Linked DNA regions of Homo sapiens. The protein of the gene in region 1 interacts with the protein of each later gene in a pairwise test. Each region holds a gene or a part of one and is shown on either strand. Other genes may lie near its edges.

Region 1 (3,679 bases):
AAAAGACCACATCTTTTCCAAGGGACATTTTTCCTGGAAAGCCCCTGGAGCTTAGGGGGCTCTCATCCTGTGAAGCGGGCTCTGGCCACTAGGGGGCAGGGCCATTAACTCAGCCTGGAGGGCGCCGGCAGGGCGGCTGGCATTCTGGAGGGACAGACAGAACAGGCCACCAGGCTCAGGCAGGCGAGGGAGGCAGGGGGACAGAATGGAAGACACCTGGGCTGGATGGAAGTCAGTGCCCTTGGGTGCTGGCATCCTGTCTTCCTGGCCACCGCTAGATCAGGCTTCTGAGCCTGTTGGCCATCGGGGCCAAACTGTCCCCATAGGTACCATGGTAGTCCCCGTGTAATCCCCAAGATGTCACCAGGCAGCATACAGGTAACAAGCCTGGAAGGTCCCAACAGCCCAGCTGCACATGCTCAGACACTCTGGGGCTCCCTGTTCAGTGGCACAAACTCCAGGACCCAGTGAGAGAAACAGGAACACATCAGGCAGAGCAGTATGGCTAAATCCATTTATTCCGAAATAAAAAGCAAAATAAACAGGAGTCGCATCACCAGGGCGCCACGACCCCATCCCCGCCTCCTTCCTCTGTCCTATGCTATCAATAAATAAGTTTCCCAGCCCCAAATAATTATTAGAACCTCCTCCCCATGTGCCAGCTCCAACCTCTGCTAGGTATGATACAGGGGGCGGCCCTACCCCTGGAATATACAAAATGTTACACAGATACAATATGTACACTGGGGAAGCAGGGCCACCCCAGCAGCCCGTGCCCTCGCCTGGTCTACAGTTAGCCCCACTGTCCTGCCTCAGCTGCCTCTCTGTGTAAGAAGATGGGAGCCCCCCTGAGGGAAAAATTGCTTTGGTGAGAGTAAGGAGGCCATGAGGCCTCTTCCAAAGAGGCCAATTATATGAGCCTCTGGCTATTAAATAACAATCATCATCATCCAGAAATTTAAGGAGTCAGCCCTGGCCAAGGTGGCTAAGGGTCTACACATTTGTCTCCCCCCATTAGACAGGGGTCTTATTTGCTACTGTAAGAGTAAAGGGATGACTGGGAAGGGGTGGCAGGCACATGATGGGGGCGGAGCCTCCGGCCCCACTTCTCCAGGCTTTGCTGACAGTGGCCTGCTTTTTAAAATTTTTATCCTGACTTTCTTTAATCCCATAACTTTTTTCATAATTTTTTTTTTTTTTGAGACAGAGTCTCACTCTGTCGCCCAGGCTGGAGTGCAATGGCGTGATCTCAGCCCACTGCAACCTCCACCTCCCAGGTTCAAGCGATTCTCCTGCCTCAGCCTCCCGAGTAGCTGGGATTACAGGCACGTGCCACCATGCCTGGCTAATTTTTGTATTTTTAGTAGAGACACAGTTTCACCATGTTGACCAGGCTGGTCTTGAACTCCCAACCTCAGCCTCCCAAAAGTGCTGGGATTACAGGCGTGAGCCACTGCACCTGGCCTTTTTTCATAACTTTTATACCATAAGTTACCCATAACCTTTTTTATCCCATAACTTTTTTTAATCCCATAACTTTTAATTTTTTTTTAATTTAGTGGCCAGCTTTTAGATGACAGTGATCTTCACCTCATCTGCACCTGTCTACCCCCGTTAGACAGGGGTCTATGCTTGCTACTGTAAGGGTAAAGGGTTGACTGAGAAGGGATGGTAGGGATATGGTGGGGGCAGGGTATCCAGCCCCACTTCTTCAGGCTTTGCTGACAGTAGCCGGCTTTTAGATGACAGTGATCTTCACCTCATCATTCTCGTCAGCCCGGTAAAAAAAAGGAATGCAGGGGTTGCTGCCCAAGCCTGGGCGCTCCCGGGGGTTCTGCATCTCACGAAGCAGCTGCATGATCTGCTGTGCAGTGGGGTTGTCACGGGGAGAACCCTCCCTGGCCTCTCCTTGGGCAGGCTCCACACTGCCGGCGAGGCTCACCTCGCAAAGATCTTTGGAGAGAGAGAGGCAGGGCTCTGAGTGCCACGCGAGCCCTCCCTTACTCCTGCCTGCCCACCCCTCCCGAGGGCTCTACTCACCACCCTGCTGGTTGGCAGCCCCAAGTTCCTGGGGGGCTGGGGCCCCTGAAGTGGGCTCATCAGCAGGGTTCTGGGCAGCTGCCAGGAATCTGCCATGCCACTCGTTGCGGTCGCCCACAAGCCGTAAGACCAGCTCCTGCAGCTCCAGCAGCTTCACCTGGAGGGAGGGGTGCTAAGCTGCCATGCCCATGCCCGTGCCCACCTCCACCCCCAGAGATGTTCCACACCCTACCTTCATCTCCTCCTTGTCTTGGGCCAGCCTGCTGATGTACTCCTCCTTCTCCCGGTGCCGCTCCTTCAGCACTGCCCTCTGGCTCTGGTACAGTGCAATGTACTCTCCTGCGGGAGGACAGGGCTCAGATGCTGGGTTCCCTCCGACCGCTGTGCAGCTCCTCCTGCCGTGCCCTGGCCTCCCACTCACCAATGGTGTCTGTCTCTCCAGAAAGCTGGATGCAGCGATGTTCCAGTTCCTCTACCCTCTCCTTCAGGTCTGCCTTCTCCTGCATGAGCTCCATAAAGCGGCTCTGGAACCAAAATAATGGAGTCATATATCGGCAGCGACCTGCCCCGCCCCCACCCTTCTTGACCCATGCCAGGAGAGACTCATTCACCTGCAGCTTCTCCATGGCCCCCTGCAGGGCCCGGTGGGTCTCCCCACACACAGAATCACCCCCGGTCCCTGGGGCTGGGGCTGCTGCCTCAGGCTCCTTCTGGGCCGAGGCCAGCAGGTGAGCCAGGCGCCGGCAGCGCACCCTTTGCTCCTTCAGCTGCCCACGTAGCCTTGCCTGCTCCTCCTCGGCACTGGCTACAGCTGAGTTGAAAAATGCCACCTGCAGGCAAGAGGGGTGCATTCTTGTAGGAGGATATATAGGATGAACAGGGCAGGGAGGTAGAGAGCAGCCCTTCCCTTGGGGCCTCAGAGGGTGCACTTGTTGGTCCCAAGTGAAATGGTGTCTCACCACTGGCTCCCAGGAAAGGGGTGAGGGTCCGAAGAAATCAGAAGGCCGGGAAACCAAGAGCAGAAGGGGGTCTGGGAGGGACCACAGAGGGAGGCAGCAAAGGTTGGGGAGGGGGAGTCAGCCTCACCATGGCTTCCCGGCTCTCCAGGTCCTCCGGGATGCTTGGCATGGGCTGAGGTACTGCCACCGCCTCCTCCTCCTCCTCCTCCTCATCCTCCTCCTCCTCCCGGTCCAGTCCATCTCCTATGGGGGTGGCCAGAGGGGTCATCAGACAACCCAACAAGGGTACAGTGGGCCCACCTCTGCCCCCACCCTCACTGTGTAACCCTGGGCCAGCCCCTCCCCAGAGGGAAATAAGCATCTGTTCTTTATTTTTATTTTATTCTTTTTTAAGAGCCAAGGGCTCGCTATGCTGCCCAGGTGCAGTCCCACTACCGATCAGCATGGGAGTTCTGACCTGCTTCATTTCTGACCTGGGCCAGTTCACCCATCCTTAGGTAAGCTGGTAGTGCCCTGCTCCCAGGAAGTCACCATATTGATGCCGAACTTAGTGTGGACACCCAGTTGGCATAATGACCAGCTGTTCTAAAGGTCTCTTCCAACTCCTCAATTCTACGCTGCTAACAGTCCCCCCTTCTTCCTGGGGCTCTCTCCTCTTCCTGTGAGCAGGTTCCCGTACC
Region 2 (2,494 bases), on another chromosome or scaffold:
CATTGCACTCCGGCCTGGTGACAGAGCGAGACTCTGTCTTAAAAAAAAAAAAAAAAAGCGCAGTGCACACAATCCCAATCTCTCCTGAAACCCCTCCCCTCACCCAGTGGTTGCTCAGTCTGTGGCTCCCTGTGTGGCACAACTCAGCATGTGTTAGGCTATGTTGTATGCGCCCCTTTAAGGATCCACCCCCTCTCCCACTCACTGGGCGTCCTCAGAGGCAGGAGTCATTTCATCTTATTCATGCTTGAATTTATAGGACCCAACATATACATTGGAGATGGGGTGGAGAAGTCACAGCTCTTGCTCTTTGAGATGTCCCCACTCCTCAGGAGCAGAGAAGGGGCTGTGTGTACTGGGTGGGGGGAACCAAAAGAGCCAAAGCTCCTGGTGGGGAGGGGGTGCGGGGACAGAGCTAAGCCTGCTGCCCACCCACCTGCCACCTCCAACTTCCAACCCGTAGCTTCCACCACCCCCACCACCAGAAATCTCATACTGTGTTTGCCATAAAGCCTTTAATTTTATCTCAGGGACTGCACTCCGGGTCCAGGCTGGGGTTGTAGTGCCTGTCAGGCTGGCTGCCGGTGGGTTCTGTCCTTGGGGGCCTCTGAGGAGAGTGCTCCATTCTCACCCCCATTGACCTGTGGCTCCTTCAAGACACAGATAGAGGCCCCTGACTCTGCAGCTCCCACCCCCATGCCCAAGGAAACCACTGACAATGTGGCTTCAAACCCTGCTTCAGTGCCGGCTTGCTGTGTGATCCTGGGCAAAGTGACTCTTCTCGAGTCTCACTTTCCTTATTGTCAAGTGGGCTTCATAATCGCTGCTCTGTACCAGGTTATTCTAAGGCATGGGGTGACCAGCGTGGTGGTGCCAGCCCCTAATGAGGGACTTGGTGTGTGGCCGCTCAGATGGTTGCAGAGTCCCAGACTGGTTCTGCTGCTTGTTCGCTCCTGCGTCCTTAAAGAAGGCCCTTCCCCTCAGGTCCTTAGTTTCCTCATTGAGAAGTAGGAATGACAACCCTGGCCTTGCCTTCCTCTGGGCTCTCTGCCTGTCCTGGGGGAGGCCCTCCAGAGCCCAGAGTGCTGGTGTGGGCGCCCCTTCCCGCAGCAGCATGGCAGAGTCAGTTCTTGACCTGACGGGGAGACTCACCTGGGTTTCCTGGGGGTGCCCTCTCTGTCCACCTTTCCTGCCTCAGACAGCAGCTGCTCCTCATCCAGCCCCAGTGCTGACAGCACCTGGGAGAAGCGCCGAGTGACGGTGAGCCGGGCATTGGCCTGAGGAGAGAGAAGACGGCTTCCTGCTCTGCACCAGGGCTGCCGAGGGCAAGGTGGGGATCGGGTTACTGAGGGGGTCCCAGGGATTCCAGAGGGCAGCAGCCCTGGGATCCTATCTGCAGGGACCTACTCGCATCCTGCTTCCCTACCCACTCAGCCAGCTCTTCACAGGGGGCAGCTATGTGCTTGCCCAGGTGCCAGCCTCACCTGCATAGCCTGCTGGAACAGGAAGGGCCGGGCCTGCACCCTGTGCTGGATGCCTTGCAGCTCCGCCTGGTACTCAGCAAAGCGCTGTCGCTCCTGGCGCCTGCAGGGGAGACAGGCCTTTGTGCAGCTAACCATGGACACAACTGTTGATCTCCATTCCTGAGCCCGCTTATCTTCACTAAGGACTTGATATTCATGTCCTCACCCTCACCTTTACAAAGCTATTTCATTCCCATTCTTGCCTGGATTCCTTGTGAAGTCAGCCAAGGTGGAAATTATTCACCCAATTTACGGATGGATCGGGAGGGTTGAGGGACTTGTTCAAAGTTGTGCAGCTGGGAAGTGAGGGGCCGAGCCCTGTGCAGCTGGGGCTTGCCCATCCTCCTGTGCCAGCCCCATGGGAAAGGGGCCAGTGCTGGCTTCTGAGCTTCCAGACACGTGCTTACATAGCTTCCCCTCCCCATCCTCTTTCCCTTGAGGGGGAGCTGTGGTTGTTGGTTGTGTGACTTTGGGTGAGGCCTCTCTCTGGGCTCTTGGCTCTGGGCTCAGTTTATTTCACTGTGCTATAGTAGGGATCGGACAAGCTTGCCAGCATTCTCTGTGGTTCTTGTAAGCAGACAGCTTGGAAAATGGGACAGAGAAACTAAAAAAAAATATGTTTCAAATTTAAAAAACACACCCCTGAGAGATCAGGGTTCCACTGGGGAAGCACAATTTTCATTTATAAAAACCCAATTTGGCCAGGCGTGGTGGCTCGCACCTGTAATCCCAGCACTTTGGAAGGCCAAGGAGGGTGGATCACTTGAGCCCAAGAGTTTGAGACCAGACTGGGCAACATGGTGAAATCCTGTCTCTACAAAAATTAGCCAGACATGGTGGTATGCACCTGTAGTCCTGGGTAGTTGGGAGGCCAAGGTGGGAGGATCGCTTGAGCCTCGGAGGTCTAGGCTACAGTGAGCTGAGATTGTGCCACTGCACTCCAGCCTGGGCAACAGAGCAAGACCCTGTCT
Region 3 (2,879 bases), on another chromosome or scaffold:
CAGTGTCCCAGATAATCTTCTTCTGATTGGGACATTTCCCTGGGAACAGTGGTTACTTGCCAAATTCACATTTACGGCCAAAACTGTGGCTGCAGTGTCGACATTCATGCAAGTGGGGAAATGGGCATGTGACCCCTGAAAAAAGATTCTGGATTCCATAATCTCACCTTGCTGAGAAGAAACTGCCATTTCAGCAGAAAGTGCAATGACAGTTTCTGCACAGGGACTGGAGATTATCTCTAGAAAAGAGCTTGGAGTGAGGAAATTAGTTAATGTGGATGAATGACGTTACCCATGGAGAATGAAGTAAGTAGCTAGAAGACAAAAGCCTCAGAACACATAAATCTCAATGGGTATTGAGTAGAGGACTCAGAGCTCTGAGATAATTGGAGCTCATGGCTATCCTAGAACTTGGATAACATAAAGTTCTTGTTTCTACAAAGTGTGTATCCTTTCCATATGTGAGAACTGTGAGGAAGTACAAACTTGGAACAAAAGAAATAGTAAGGTAATCTTAGAAAGATGTTGAAAAGAAAGCTATGGTGGCATCTTAACTGTTTCACTGCCTGGCAATCTATATGTATTGTCACTTTGGGACGCTTATGATTCCACATGAAGTGGATAACCAGCTCATAGTTCTTGTGGTACTGAAAACCAAGTATTCAGCCAGGTACAGTGGCTGACACCTGTAATCCCAGCACTTTGGGAGGCCGAGGCAGGTGGATCACTTGAGCTCAGAAGGTAGAGAGCAGCCTGGGTAACATGGTGAAACCCCATCTCTACTAAAATAAATAAATAAAATTAGCCAGGTATAATGGCACATGCCTGTAGTCCCAGCTACTCAGGAGGCTGAGGCAGAATCGCTTGAACACAGGAGGTGGAGGTTGCAGTGGGCCGAGATCATGCCACTTCACTGTAGCTTAGGAGACAGAGCTAGACTCCATCTGGAAAAAAAAAAAAAAAAGAAAACCAAATATTCCTTGCAGCAAAGTGACATCACTGAAGAATGAATGAAGTCCAACATACGTCTTTGTTATTTCATTATTTTTAAATATATTAATGAAATGGGAAATAGATAAAATTCATTTTAAAAAACAAGCCTACAGGTGAGGCCAGGCAGGGTGCCTCACCCCTGTAGACCAAGCACTTTTGGAGCCTAGGCAAGTGGATCGCCTGAGCCCAGGAGTTCGCGATCAGACTGGGCAAAAAGGTAAAACCCTCTCTACAGAAAATACAAAAGTTATCCAGTTGTGGTGGTGCATACCTGTATTTCCAGCTACTCTGGAGGCTGAGGTGGGCAGAGTGCTTGAGCCCAGGAAGCAGAGGTTGCAATGAGCTGAGATTGTGCCACGGTACTCTAGCCTGGGAGACAGAGCGAGACTTTGTCTCAAAACAAAAAAAATGCAAAACATAAACCACTGACTCAAAAGTTATAACCACTTATTAAAATAATAAACAATTTCAAATACTAACCATACTCCCTCTTGGTAAGATAGAACAGAAATTCTTGGACACTGATGGTAGATAGATATACAAATGAGCAATAATTTCATTCTTAAGTCATAGTTTGGCATTGCTTAAAAAGTTGTACATTAGGCCAAGCACAGTAGGTCACACCTGAGAAGCTGAGGCAGGCAGATCACTTGAGGTCAGTTCATAACAAGCCTGGCCAGCATGGTGAAACCCCATTGCTAATAGAAATAAAAAAAAAAGTTATCCAGGCATGGTGGTGCACACCGGTAATCCCTGCTACTCGGGAGGCTGAGGCAGAAGAATCAGTTGAACTTGGGAGGCAGAGGTTGCAGTGAGCCGAAATCATGCCACCTAACTCCCGCCTGGGTGACAGAGTGAGACTCTGTCTCAAAAAAGAGTTGTACTTTAATCTATCACGTGACTCAGGCACTGCACACCACCATATTACCATAGTGAAACATACCTACATGAACAACTGCATTCAAATATAGCAGTTTCATTTATAACAGACAAAAACAAGAAGCATGTCATTCTTTTTTCTTTTTGTAGAGAGGAGGTCTGGCTATGTTGCCCAGGCTGATCTCTAACTCCTGGCCTCCAATGAACCACCTTGTCCTCCCAAAGCATCAGGTTTACAAGCATGAGCCACCATGCCTGGTTCAGCATGTCATATTCTAAGCAATACGAAAAGAATGAAGGCCAGGTGCAGAGGCTCATGCCTGTAATTTCAGCACTTTGGGAGTCAAGGTGGGTGGATCACTTGAGGTCAGGAGTTTGAGACCAGCCTGGCCAACATGGTAAAACCCCATCTCCACTAAAAACACAAAAATTAGCTGGGCGTGGTGGTGTGTACTCATAATCCCAGCTACTCAGGAGGCTGAGGTAGGAGGATTGCATGAACCCAGGAGGCCCAAGTTGCAGCGAGCCAAGACTGCACCACTGCACTCCAGCCTGGGTGACAGAACAAGACTCCATCTCAACACGAAGTCGCTTAAGACCGAGGACAGCAGACATTCTGATGTTTTCCACATTGACAGCACTCATAAGGCCTTTCTCCAGTATGAACTCTCCTGTGTTTAACGAGACGGGATGCTTCAGCAAACGATTTCCCATATTCACTGCACTCATAAGGCCTTTCTCCTGTGTGAACTCTGATGATGAAGGAGGGTAGAGCTTCGCTGAAATGTTTTTCCACATTTGGTGCATTCATAAGGCCTTTCTCCAGTGTGAATTCTCCTGTGTTTAATGAGACTGGAACATTCAGAAAAGGATTTTCCACATTCACTGCACTTATAAGGCTTTTGTCCAGAATGAACTCTTTTATGAACATGAAGCGCAGAGCTGGAAAGAAATGATTTCCCACATTCACTGCATTCATACGGCCTTTCTCCAGTGTGAATCCTCTG
Region 4 (3,500 bases), on another chromosome or scaffold:
GATCACCTGAAGTCAGGAGTTCAAGGCCAGCCTGGCCGACATGGTGAAAACCCACCTCTACTAAAAATACAAAAATTAGCTGGGCGTGGTGGCATATACCTGTAGTCCCAGCTACGCAGGAGGCTGAGGCAGGAGAACCGCTTGACTCCCAGGGGGTGGAGGTTGTAGTGAGCCAAGATTGCGCCACTGCACTCCAGCCTGGGCGACAGAGTGAGACTGTGTCTCAAAAAAAAAAAAAAAACCAAAAACAAAAAATTACAGGCTGAGTATGGAGTTATCTACTGTGTGTAGCTCATACTCAGGCAAGTTTTCTTTTTTTCTTTTTTTTTTTTTTCCAGATAGAGTCTCACTCTGTCACCTAGGCTGGAGTGCAGTGGCACGATCTCAGCTCACCGCAACCTCTGCCTGCCGGGTTCAAGCGATTCTCTTGCCTCCGCCTCCCGAGTAGCTGGGAATAACAGGCACACACCACCACACCCAGCTAATTTTTGTATTTTAGTAGAGATAGGTTTTCACCATGTTGGCCAAGCTGGTCTTGAACTCTCAGCCTGAAGTGATTCGCCTGCCTCAGCCACCCAAAGTGCTGGGATTATGGGTGTGAGCCATCACGCCCAGCCTAGAGTTATCTATTGATGGTTTCCTTTGTAATCTGGGATTACCCTCTCATACCTAGTAATTTACAGGAATGAGTGATGCAGCTCAGAAATGATTCTGCTGGGGCCGGGCATGATGGCTCATGCCATAATCCCAGCACTTTGGGAGGCCGAGTTGGGTGGACAACCTGAGATCATGAGTTCGAGACCAGCCTGACCAACATGGTGAAACCCTGTCTGTACTAAAAATACGAAAATTAGCCAGGCATGGTGGCGCATGCCTGTAATCCCAGCTACTTGGGAGGCTGAGGCAGGAAAATCACTTGAACCTGGCAGGCGGAGGCTGCAGTGAGCTGAGATTGTGACACTTCACTGCAGCCTGGGTGAAAAGTGAAACTTCATGTCAAAAAAAAAAAAAAAAGATTCTGCTCTAACACAGTGTAGATTATTTAAGTGCCACAAATTCTTCCCCTCACAGTATGTATGCCCCTTTTCAAAAAGTATGACTTTGCTGCTCCTCCTCTGCAGAGGTGGAGTCTGTTTCTCCACCTGCTTAAAGCTAGGTTGGCCTTGTGACTTGCTTTGACCAGTATGTGGCAAGATCGATGTATGAGTTCTGGAACCGACATGTCAGAAGACCTTGCCCTCTTAGAATGGTGCCCTGAGACTGCTATGTAAGGAAGCCAGTCTAATCCAGTGAAGGATAAGTGAGGTATCCTAACTGATAGCCACCACCTACTACTAACATGTGAGTGAAGCCCTTTTAAGTTTCCAGCCCAGTCAACCTTCCAGCTGGATGCAACTACATAAGTAAGCCCAGGTGAAATCAGTAGAGGAACTGTTCAGCCAACCTCCAAAGTTGTGAAAAGTAATAAATTATAGTTTCAAGTCACTCAATTGTGGGTTGGGTTGTACACAAGAAGAGATAACTACTAACAGTTACTAATTTTTGTGTCTACTAGGAAACTAAAGGGAGCACTGGCTGGCACTCTATTATGGACACACATCGACAAAGTGTTTTTCTCTTCCCTGATTTCACTGTAGCAAGTGAAACTCATATTCCAATTATAGGAAACTCACAAAGCAACAAGAACTCTGAAGGTGGCTAGAATGGAACTCACAGTAGGTAATGAGTCTCAGAGCTATCCTGCTAGAAACCTGTTCCATTAGCAGCATTAACTCTAGGCTCATCTTTTTACTCACGCTTCTCGATCTTCTCTGTCCCTCTTGATTCTTTTTAGCTCTCGAACTTTCCATGCCTCATATTCCTCCTCATCATTTTCATCATCAGTATTGAGTGCATCCAATGCAGCCAGGGATCGCTTGTTCTCTTCCAGCTCTTTTTTGGTTTCCTCTTCGACAATCTGGATAGGGAGAACAATTCAGCTTGGACTTCCTTACTCTCCTCAGACAAACCTGATTACACTATTTCTTGTACTCATTCCTTGCAACCACTCCCCAGTACCTTGAGTGTGTACTTGCGCCTTTCCTCAGCCATGCGTTTTGCTTCCTGCTCCAGCTCCTTCTGTTTCAATGCTTCGGCTTCACGTTCTTGAACTGTCACTCGGTCCTTCCTGCATCACAGAGATCCTGTTAATTGCCCAAAGTCCTTAGAGTGGAGTGCTTTGTTCCCCTAGACCTAGTCCCATCCAAATCAGACAAAAACCAAACAATCTTTGGCTCTATTATTTTCAAAGAGCAAAAAACGCTGAGTCATCCCAGGTCTTTTTTTTTTTTTTTTTTTTTGAGACGGAGTCTCACTTGTCGCCTAGGCTGCAGTGCAGTGGTGTGATCTTGGCTCACTGCAACCTCCGCCTCCTGGGTTCAAGCAATTCTCTGCCTCAGCCTCCTGAGTAGCTGGGATTACAAGAGTCTGCCACCACACCTGATTAATTTCTTTGTATTTTTAGTAGAGATGGGGTTTCACCATCTTGGCTAGGCTGGTCTTGAACTCCTGACCTCCTGATCCACCTACCTCAGCCTCCCAAAGTGCTGGGATTACAGTCGTGAGCCACCGTGCCCAGCCATCATCCCAGGTCTTTAGAGGACTAAAATCATGTTCATCTTTGAGAACTGCCTAGACAGCAAAGAACCTGCTGGCCTCTAAGCAGTAGGATTTCTAGCCATCAGGAAAGGAATAGGAATTTGCTCGTTGAGTTTAATTTTGTGCTTAAAAATATATGGCCTTGGCTTGGTGCCGTGGCTCATGCCTGTAATCCTAGCACTTTGGGAGGCTGAGGAGGACGGATCACCTGAGGTTGGGAGTTCGAGACCAGCCTGACCAACATGGAAAAACCCCCTCTCTACTAAAAATACAAAATTAGCCAGGCGTGGTGGCGCATGCCTGTAATCCCAGCTACTCGGGAGACAGAGGCAGAACTGCTTGAAACCAGGAGGTGGAGGTTGTGGTGAGCCGAGATCATGCCATTGCACTCCAGCCTGGGCAACAAGAGCGAAACTCTGTCTCAAACAAACAAAAAAAGGCCTTGGACAGATATATGCTCTATTACTGAAAAAAGAGATGTGAAAACAAACTCAGGTTCTCTGCTAACGCCAAGATATTCCTCAGCAGCTAGTCTGCCAAGGGTAGAGCACTAGCAAAAGCACTTTCACTCAGCGTTTAGATTTCAGAATAGCAAGACAGAAAACAGACTTTTGTCTCCAGGCCTGGAAAGTGGTAATTAAGTGGATTCAGATCTGGCTTGTGAGATACTTACTTTCGAATGAAGACTGGCTTAAGGCGAGGCTCCATCTCATCTTCACTGTCTGTGTACTCTTCATACTCAGACTCTGATTCTGACTCCTCTCCAGAACGACCCTCATCTTCCACTTCCATGACTTCCATCTCTTCATTTTTTCTCTCCTGTGCTCGCTGACGCATCATGCCACGCCGCCGCTCTATTTCCT
Region 5 (2,975 bases), on another chromosome or scaffold:
ATTAAAACATACTATATTTTAAAGTATATAAACACCAAATTTTTCTTCATTCTGTGAAAAATGAAGAGTGAGTAAGCAAAACAATGACAAGATATACATTTTAAGCCTTGTACACAAATAGAAAAGCAATATTCATTTTATAAAACAAATCTAGAATATAAAGGGACTTGTCAAGTTGGAAAACTTACTGAATCAAGAAGGTGGCATTCAGTAGTGAGACTTTTATTATCAAATAGTTCTGAAAAACAACAAAAAAAAACTTTTTAAAGAATATTCTCACATTCGAGGGCTGTTAGAAATGGACAAAGCCATGAAAAATATGAAAAGTTCCACATATCAAATGCTAAGACAAAAATATAGACCCCTATGCTATAATGTTTTTTGAAAGTAGTTAAATTCTTATCCTTAACTTTGGTATAAAAGCAGACTTCTGTAAACAAATCTCATGCTTGTAACATTAAAGGTACCCAGAAAATGCTGATGAAGAACAGCTGGAGGACATTAAATGTCTGGCCGAGGTTAAAACCTTTTGTTTTACCATAGGCCCCAGTTAGACCAGCTACAGACTAACTGATGAAAATGGCAGGTAAAACTGGCACACATTATAACAAAAATATAGGAGCCATTTCCTATTGCAGAACCATCACAACAATATAGGTAGAACTAGGCAGTAGGGAAGAAAAATAGGATATTTTGAAGAAAGACTTGGGGATATGTGTTGAAAAGGACAACTAAAAAAAAAGCCCAGGCTGGCCAATGTGGTGAAACTCTGTCTCTACTAAAAATAAAAAAATTAGCTAGGCGCGGTGGTACATGTGTAGGAGAATCGCCTCAACCTGGGAGGTGGAGGTTGCAGTGAGCTGAGATCACACGACTACACTCCAGCCTGGGCAACAGAGTGAGACTCCATCTCAAAAAAAAAAAAAATCTTGAGGGAATTGTTCTAATTCAGGGTCTTCACTAACAATGAAGGATCCTCAATAGTTAGATCTAATGTAAAATGGACCTTATAGGATAATTTATACCTTAATCCAAGTTCATTTCTTTAATAAAGGCTCGTTTAAATATATTTTAAATATCTCACCTGACTGAGAAATTTTAGTTTCCCCTTCTTCTAAGATGCTATTTTGTGAAGCTGTATTTTTTTCAGGGCTACTCATCAAAACATCCTGTGATGTAATTGAAGAATTCAGTTCCATTCCTTCCACAACATCTGAAATTCCTTCTTTTTTGTTAGTATTAATATCATCTGCTACTCCACCAGCAAGAAGAGGCAAACTCATTCTCTCACTGGATAAACAATCCACCTTCAAGTCTGTCTTATTTACAACCTGGAAGTAAAAATGGCATTATATTTAATTATCAATTTAATTACTTGGAACAAATTTTAAAAGTCTTGTTGCTATTAAATACAAGAAAAACAGAAGGATGACATCCCGGACACAGTCTTAAGAACATTATAAATCCTACTATCCTGCTTCTTCAACAATTAGTTCAGATAATATTATAGAAATAGTATGATTGAAGGCAAGTTTCTCAGCAAGTACCTATACTCTAGCTCAGGGACTGGCAAACATTTTCTGTAAAAGATCAAATAGTAAATATTTTAGGTTTGTGAGTCACAGGGTCTCTGTCATAAGTACTCAACTCTACCACTGTATTGCAAAAGCAGCCAGATAGAATACATAAACAAATGTGTGGCTATTACAATAAAATATGATTTGTAAAAATAGGGGCCAAAGTTTGCTGATTTCTGCTCTAGTTCACTGGTTCCATATTCATTCTGATATGAGTTGAAGAATACAAAATGACACTATGGTTTTAAACAACCCAAATGTCATTGAAACAAGAACTACAATTCTACATGACTGATTTAGATTTCCAACGGAAATTCTGGGGATGCTTTACAAAGTTACTTTCTATAATGATATAAACATATGACATACTGGGCTATCTAACCACACTGGAATTGTACTTACATGATTTTCTTCAATTAAATCTGGTAATCCAGGACACTGAGCATCTTCTATGCTGCTCCTAAAGAAGAAAAAAAGCAGCATTACACTCATAAACATATTGTTATTGTTTCACTTGTATTTTGAGTCTTTCCTTTAATGATGGCAATTAGTTTAGGGAATGGATCAAACATGGAGCCTGGTGCAAGATCAGGCGTGATCCAGATAGATTAGTTTTGGACTATAGCTACTGCAGGATGGCCTTACAAACTAAATGCATTCTTCCCCAGAAAGCTCACAAGTCTGTTACCATGGTGGTCAGTCAGGGTCAGGTGGCTCTACCAGCAATACTCTGAATCTCAGCCAAATCCAGAGCTATATATTAAAGAAAAGTCAAAAAGAAGGTGACTTCTGGAGACAGAAGCAACAATTCAATTATTGTCTAGCTGGAGTTAGCTACATTTACTCGTTACTTGTTAATCCAGGTACCTGCTAAGAAACTTGACTTCAATCATACTATTTCTATAATTTTATCCGAAAGTTCAAAAAGCGGAACAGGAGTTACAATGTTCTTAAGTCTGCTGCTTGTTAACAAGTAAATGTAGCTAACTCCAGCTAGACAATAATTGAGTTAGAATACAAGGTATTCTAATCCTGAAGTTACTAGCTTGTATCTTATTAGAAATATCTGTTTTGGCCAGGCGCCTTGGCTCACGCCTGTAATCCCAGCACTTGGGAGGCAGCGGCGGGTGGATCACGAGGTCAGGAGATTGAGACCATCCTGGCTAACATGGTGAAACCCCGTCTCTACTAAAAATACAAAAAATTAGCTGGGCGTGGTGACATGCGCCTGTAGTCCCAGCTACTTGGGAGGCTGAGGCAGGAGAATCACTTGAACCTGGGAGGCGGAGGTTGCAGTGAGCCGAGGTAGTGCCACTGCACTCCAGCCTCAGCAACAGAGCGACACTCCGTCTCAAAAAAAAAAAAAAAATTTATCTCCACTTCTTTCAAGTTACTTTT
Region 6 (2,302 bases), on another chromosome or scaffold:
TGCAAGTGTGAGTGTGTATATGCATGTGTGTATATGCATGCCATGTGTGTGCATGTATGTGTATATGCATATATGAGTGAGTGCACGTGACAGTCTACACGTGAGGGTGCATGTGTGTGCGCGTGTGGGTGACTGCATATGTGTGTGCATGTGTGGGTGCGGGTGCATCTGTGTGTGCATGTTTGGGTGCGGGTGCATGTGTGCGTGCACGTGTGTGTGGATGAGAGGTCGCATGTGTGTGGGTGAGGGCGTGTGTGTGTGCATGTGTGTGGGTGAGGGGGCATGTGTGTGCACGTGTGTGGGTGAGGTGTGTGTGTGCATGTGTCAGGGTGTGTGTGCGCGCATGTGTGTGGGTGAGGGCCTGTGTGTGCGTGTGTGTGGGTGAGAGATGTGTGCGCATGTGTGTAGGTAAGGGTGCTTGTGTGCGCATGTGTGTGGGTGAGGGCGTATGTGTGTGGGTGAGGGCACGTGTGCGCGCGTGTGGGTGAGATGGCGTGTGCGTATATCCATGTATGACTGCATCTGTATTTGCATGAGTTCATGTGTGAGTGCATGTTTATACGCGTGTCAGGGTCTCTGTGTATGTGTATGACGTGTGAGTACATGTGTTAATGTGTGTGTACATGTGTATATGCCTGTGTGCATGTGTGTATGCATGTGTATACATGTGTACTTGTGTATGTGTATATGTGTATGTCTGTATATGTGTGTGTATGCCTGTGTACGTATGTATATGCGTGTGTGTATGCATGTGAGTGCATGTTTATGCGTGTGTATGTGTACTTGTGTGTGCCTGTGTGAGTGCATGTGTGTGTACATGTGTATATGCGCGTGTGCGTATGCGTGTATGTGTACGTGTGTATATGCATGTGTGTGTATATGCCTGCATGTATATGCACAAGTGTGTATATATGTGTATGTGTGAGTGTATGTGTGCATGTGTATCTGTATGTGCGTGTGTATATGTGCATGTGTGTATGTGTGCGTGAGTGTGTGCATGTGTGTGTGTATGTGTGCGTGTGTATGTGTGTGCGTGAGTGTGTGAGAGTGTGTATGTATACGCACGCGTGTGTGTCTGTCTCCCTCAGGACAGTGCCCAGGCGGATGGGTCAGTGCTCCTGGGTTGGTTTGCCCCTGGTGGCCCATGTCTGAGCCCTGCCCCTTACGGCTCTGTCTGCAGGTTCTCCCATGGGCAGGTGGTCTCTCTGGATGAGCTGCGCCCCTTCCAGGACCCAGACCTGAGCTCCCTGCAGGCCGGCTCTGCGTGTCTGGCCAAGCACCAGGATGGCCTCTGGCACGCAGCACGCATCACCGGTGAGGCTGGCCGTGGGGGCCTCCCGGGAACACCCTCCCAGGCCCCACGTGTGTTGTCACTGTGTGGCTGCTCCCTGCTTCCTTTGGGTTGAGTGTCGGGACTCTGGCTCTGGGCCCGAAATGAGCACACCTACCCTCAGCCTCTGCCCTGCCTTGCTCCTCATGTCCAGGGTGGTTCCCTTCAGTGGCACCTGCTGTCAAGGATTCTGACCTGCAGCTTGTCTCTGCCCCCAGATGTGGACAACGGCTACTACACAGTCAAGTTTGACTCGCTGCTGCTGAGGGAGGCCGTGGTGGAGGGGGACGGCATCCTGCCCCCACTGCGCACAGAGGCCACAGAGTCCGACTCAGACAGCGACGGTACGGGTGACTCCAGCTATGCCAGAGGTATGGCAGCAGCTGCGGAGCCCAGGAGCCAGGAAGGTGGGGTCACCCTGAGAGGCTCCTGGCCGGTGAGGGCACCAACCATCTAACCAAACTATTGGAGAGTGTGTGACTGCGGCGAGGGTGCCACCTGTGCCTGAGGAGGCCGTGTGGGTAGGGGTAGATCCGTGGCGGCCTTTATCTTCAAGGAGTGTGGGTGCAACAGCTACAGTCTCATTGATGGGAGGCCATGGTCGTGGCTGTGGCCATGGGAGAGGAGGGGCCTGGAGTTGCCGAGGAAGTCACAGAAAATGACCAACTGATGGGGCCTGGAGTGCAGGAGGGGCAGCTCCTCTGCATGGCTTCTCAGACTTGGGACCTGGGTGCCTGGGATCCTGGCAGACAGAGGTTGTGTCCAGACAGCCAGCATGGAAGTTTCGGGAATGGGAACTGGTGGGCAGTGTCCAGCTCTCCAGAGGGGTGTGTGTATGCGTGTGCGTGTGTGTGTATATATGTGGGAGGTCACCTGACCCAAGCATGGCGGGCTGAGTCCAGGAGGGGTCTGCATGTTGGAGGTGTACCCAGGGATCAGTGATGGTGGTTTCTGAAGCCCCATGTCCCTGGT
Region 7 (2,207 bases), on another chromosome or scaffold:
GGGTTCAAGGGATTCTCCTGCCTCGGCCTCCCGAGTAGCTGGGACTACAGGCATGAGCCACCACGCCCGGCTAATTTTTGTATTTTTAGCAGAGATGGGCTTTCACCACACTGGCCAGGCTGGTTTCCAACTCCTGACCTCAGGTGATCCACCTGCCTCAGCCTCCCAAAGTGCTGGGATTACAGGCGTGAGCTACCGCACCCGGCCGTCCTGGACATCTTTTACGTATTCCCCTAGGACAGCCACCTCCCTACTTCTGTAGGGATGCAAGATCCAGCTGGAATTATTTCTGGGCTAGGATCCTGTTGTCTTGGGTTCTTGTTCCTAAACTGGCCGGGACTCGACTCATCAGCCAGGCTTGTCAAATGCAGGTTTCGAAGCCCTTGGAGGATTCTGATTTAAGTAGGTCTGGGTGTGTCTTTGGAATCTATTTCTAACAAGCACCCCAGGTGCTCTCACACCCAGGCAACTTAGACAAACACTCCTAGTTAGGAGCACAGTCTCTTTAACTTCATTTTTATTTACATTTTGAATACATAATACATTCACATGGTTCCAAACACAACACTGAAAAGTTGTTCTTCAGCTCCTGTTCCCAAGTCCCCAATTCTCCCCAGAGACAACCATCTTTGCCAGTTTATTGTGTTTAAATCTAGCGACATTTTGTACATAAACAAGCACACCCTCTTCCAACATTTTTTTTTTTTTTGAGATGGAGTCTCGCTCTGTTGCCCAGGCTGGAGAGCAGCGGCACGATCTCGGCTCGGCGTGATCTTGGCTCACCACTACCTCCGCCTCCTGGGTTCAAGTGATTCTCCTGCCTCAGCCTCCTGAGTAGCTGGGATTATAGATGCACTCCACCACACCCAGCTAATTTTTGTATTTTTAGTAGAGACAGGGTTTCACCATGTTGGTCAGGCTGGTCTCGAACTCCTGACCTCTTGATCCGCCTGCCTCGGCCTCTCAAAGTGCTAGGATTACAGGCATGAGCCACCATGCCCTGCCCCCACTTTTTCTTTAAAAATGGTAACCCTTTACACTCTTCTGCACATTAAGAACAGCTAGACCTAAGTTTAAGCACAGTACTAGCTTGATGACTTGTGATCCTCCCTGAACCTGTTTCCTCCTCTAAAATGGCAGTAATAGCAAGACACCTCACTGTTGTCGGGGAGTGCCAGGAGAGAATGCTTGCTGCGAAGCTGTCAGCACACGGCCTGGAATAGAGTGAGTGCTCCATATCTGGAAGTTATGATTAATTCTGCATCCTAGGGTGGCCAGGCGGGGCTTCCCAGTGCCAGAGGTACAGACTGAGAACCACACCCTTGGTGAGGCCACCCTACTTATGACTTAGGGGGCAGAGAGAACCTCAGTAAGGTCAGTGGTGTTTATTGAGGCTTTACTATGTGCTATGTGCCTCTTGCTGAGGTCTTAGCTAGAATCGTGGTATTTCAGGGTTTCTCAACATTTTTTTTTTTTTTTTTTTTGGAGATGGTGTCTCGCTCTGTCGCCCAGGCTGGAGTGCAATGGCGCAATCTCGGCTCACTGCAACCTCTGCCACCCAGGTTCAAGCAATTCTCCTGCCTCAGCCTCCCAAGTAGTTGGGATTACAGGTGCTGAATTCTTTTTTTTTTTTTTTTTTGTAGCATGGTGATATTGCACTATGCTTAACCGCATCCCTGGTCTCTACTCACTCAATGCCAGTAGCCTTCTTCCTGCCTGTTGTGACATCAAAAATGTCATACATTGCCAAATGTCCCCAAGAAAGAGTGGGGCTGAGGGAGGACAAAATCCTACCCACAGTTTAAAACCACCGCCTTATCTCATCCTCACAGTAACTAACCACAGTAACCCCAGGTGGTAAGTACTGTTAATGCCCCATATTGCAAGTGAGGAGACCAACAGAACAGAGTTTGGGTGACATTCCTGAGAACACACAGCTCCGAGATTCACGCCCAGGCACTGTGACTCCAGAGCTCACCTGCCCATTATGCAAGAACATCTGATCTTGGCTGGGAGCAGTGGCTCACACCTGTAATCCCAGCACTTTGGGAGTCCAAGGCGGGCAGATCACGAGGTCAGGAGATCGAGACCGTCCTGGCCAACATGGTGAAACCCTGTCTCTACTAAAAATACAAAAAATTAGCCTTGGTGGCAGGTGCCTGTAATCCCAGCTACTTGGGAGGCTGAGGCAGGATAATCGCTTGAAC

What was found.
Region 2: the proteins of GOLGA2 (region 1) and TSGA10IP interact in binary tests that used the Homo sapiens proteins (3 or more experiments, as listed by UniProt).
Region 3: the proteins of GOLGA2 (region 1) and ZNF587 interact in binary tests that used the Homo sapiens proteins (3 or more experiments, as listed by UniProt).
Region 4: the proteins of GOLGA2 (region 1) and MFAP1 interact in binary tests that used the Homo sapiens proteins (3 or more experiments, as listed by UniProt).
Region 5: the proteins of GOLGA2 (region 1) and DLGAP5 interact in binary tests that used the Homo sapiens proteins (3 or more experiments, as listed by UniProt).
Region 6: the proteins of GOLGA2 (region 1) and ZGPAT interact in binary tests that used the Homo sapiens proteins (3 or more experiments, as listed by UniProt).
Region 7: the proteins of GOLGA2 (region 1) and MORN3 interact in binary tests that used the Homo sapiens proteins (3 or more experiments, as listed by UniProt).

What each region holds. Positions count from the first base shown.
Region 1 is NC_000009.12:128,255,329-128,259,007, forward strand, and holds the end of GOLGA2 (golgin subfamily A member 2), read right to left. Parts: coding exon 3,679-3,679; intron 3,243-3,678; coding exon 3,127-3,242; intron 2,871-3,126; coding exon 2,652-2,870; intron 2,565-2,651; coding exon 2,462-2,564; intron 2,380-2,461; coding exon 2,273-2,379; intron 2,198-2,272; coding exon 2,041-2,197; intron 1,954-2,040; coding exon 1,739-1,953; 3' UTR 501-1,738; downstream 1-500. UniProt on the Homo sapiens protein: Peripheral membrane component of the cis-Golgi stack that acts as a membrane skeleton that maintains the structure of the Golgi apparatus, and as a vesicle thether that facilitates vesicle fusion to the Golgi membrane.
Region 2 is NC_000011.10:65,957,973-65,960,466, reverse strand, and holds the end of TSGA10IP (testis-specific protein 10-interacting protein), read right to left. Parts: intron 1,585-2,494; coding exon 1,485-1,584; intron 1,317-1,484; coding exon of another isoform or gene 1,278-1,316; coding exon 1,153-1,277; intron 651-1,152; coding exon 527-650; 3' UTR 501-526; downstream 1-500.
Region 3 is NC_000019.10:57,859,859-57,862,737, reverse strand, and holds part of ZNF587 (zinc finger protein 587), read right to left. Parts: coding exon 2,598-2,879; 3' UTR 1-2,597. UniProt on the Homo sapiens protein: May be involved in transcriptional regulation.
Region 4 is NC_000015.10:43,811,191-43,814,690, forward strand, and holds part of MFAP1 (microfibrillar-associated protein 1), read right to left. Parts: intron 3,499-3,500; coding exon 3,311-3,498; intron 2,168-3,310; coding exon 2,059-2,167; intron 1,958-2,058; coding exon 1,797-1,957; intron 1-1,796. UniProt on the Homo sapiens protein: Involved in pre-mRNA splicing as a component of the spliceosome.
Region 5 is NC_000014.9:55,150,611-55,153,585, forward strand, and holds part of DLGAP5 (disks large-associated protein 5), read right to left. Parts: intron 2,038-2,975; coding exon 1,980-2,037; intron 1,332-1,979; coding exon 1,085-1,331; intron 239-1,084; coding exon 189-238; intron 1-188. UniProt on the Homo sapiens protein: Potential cell cycle regulator that may play a role in carcinogenesis of cancer cells. Mitotic phosphoprotein regulated by the ubiquitin-proteasome pathway.
Region 6 is NC_000020.11:63,732,039-63,734,340, forward strand, and holds part of ZGPAT (zinc finger CCCH-type with G patch domain-containing protein), read left to right. Parts: intron 1-1,180; coding exon 1,181-1,314; intron 1,315-1,548; coding exon 1,549-1,701; intron 1,702-2,302. UniProt on the Homo sapiens protein: Transcription repressor that specifically binds the 5'-GGAG[GA]A[GA]A-3' consensus sequence. Represses transcription by recruiting the chromatin multiprotein complex NuRD to target promoters.
Region 7 is NC_000012.12:121,648,242-121,650,448, forward strand, and holds the end of MORN3 (MORN repeat-containing protein 3), read right to left. Parts: 3' UTR 501-2,207; downstream 1-500. UniProt on the Homo sapiens protein: Assembles a suppression complex (suppresome) by tethering SIRT1 and MDM2 to regulate composite modifications of p53/TP53.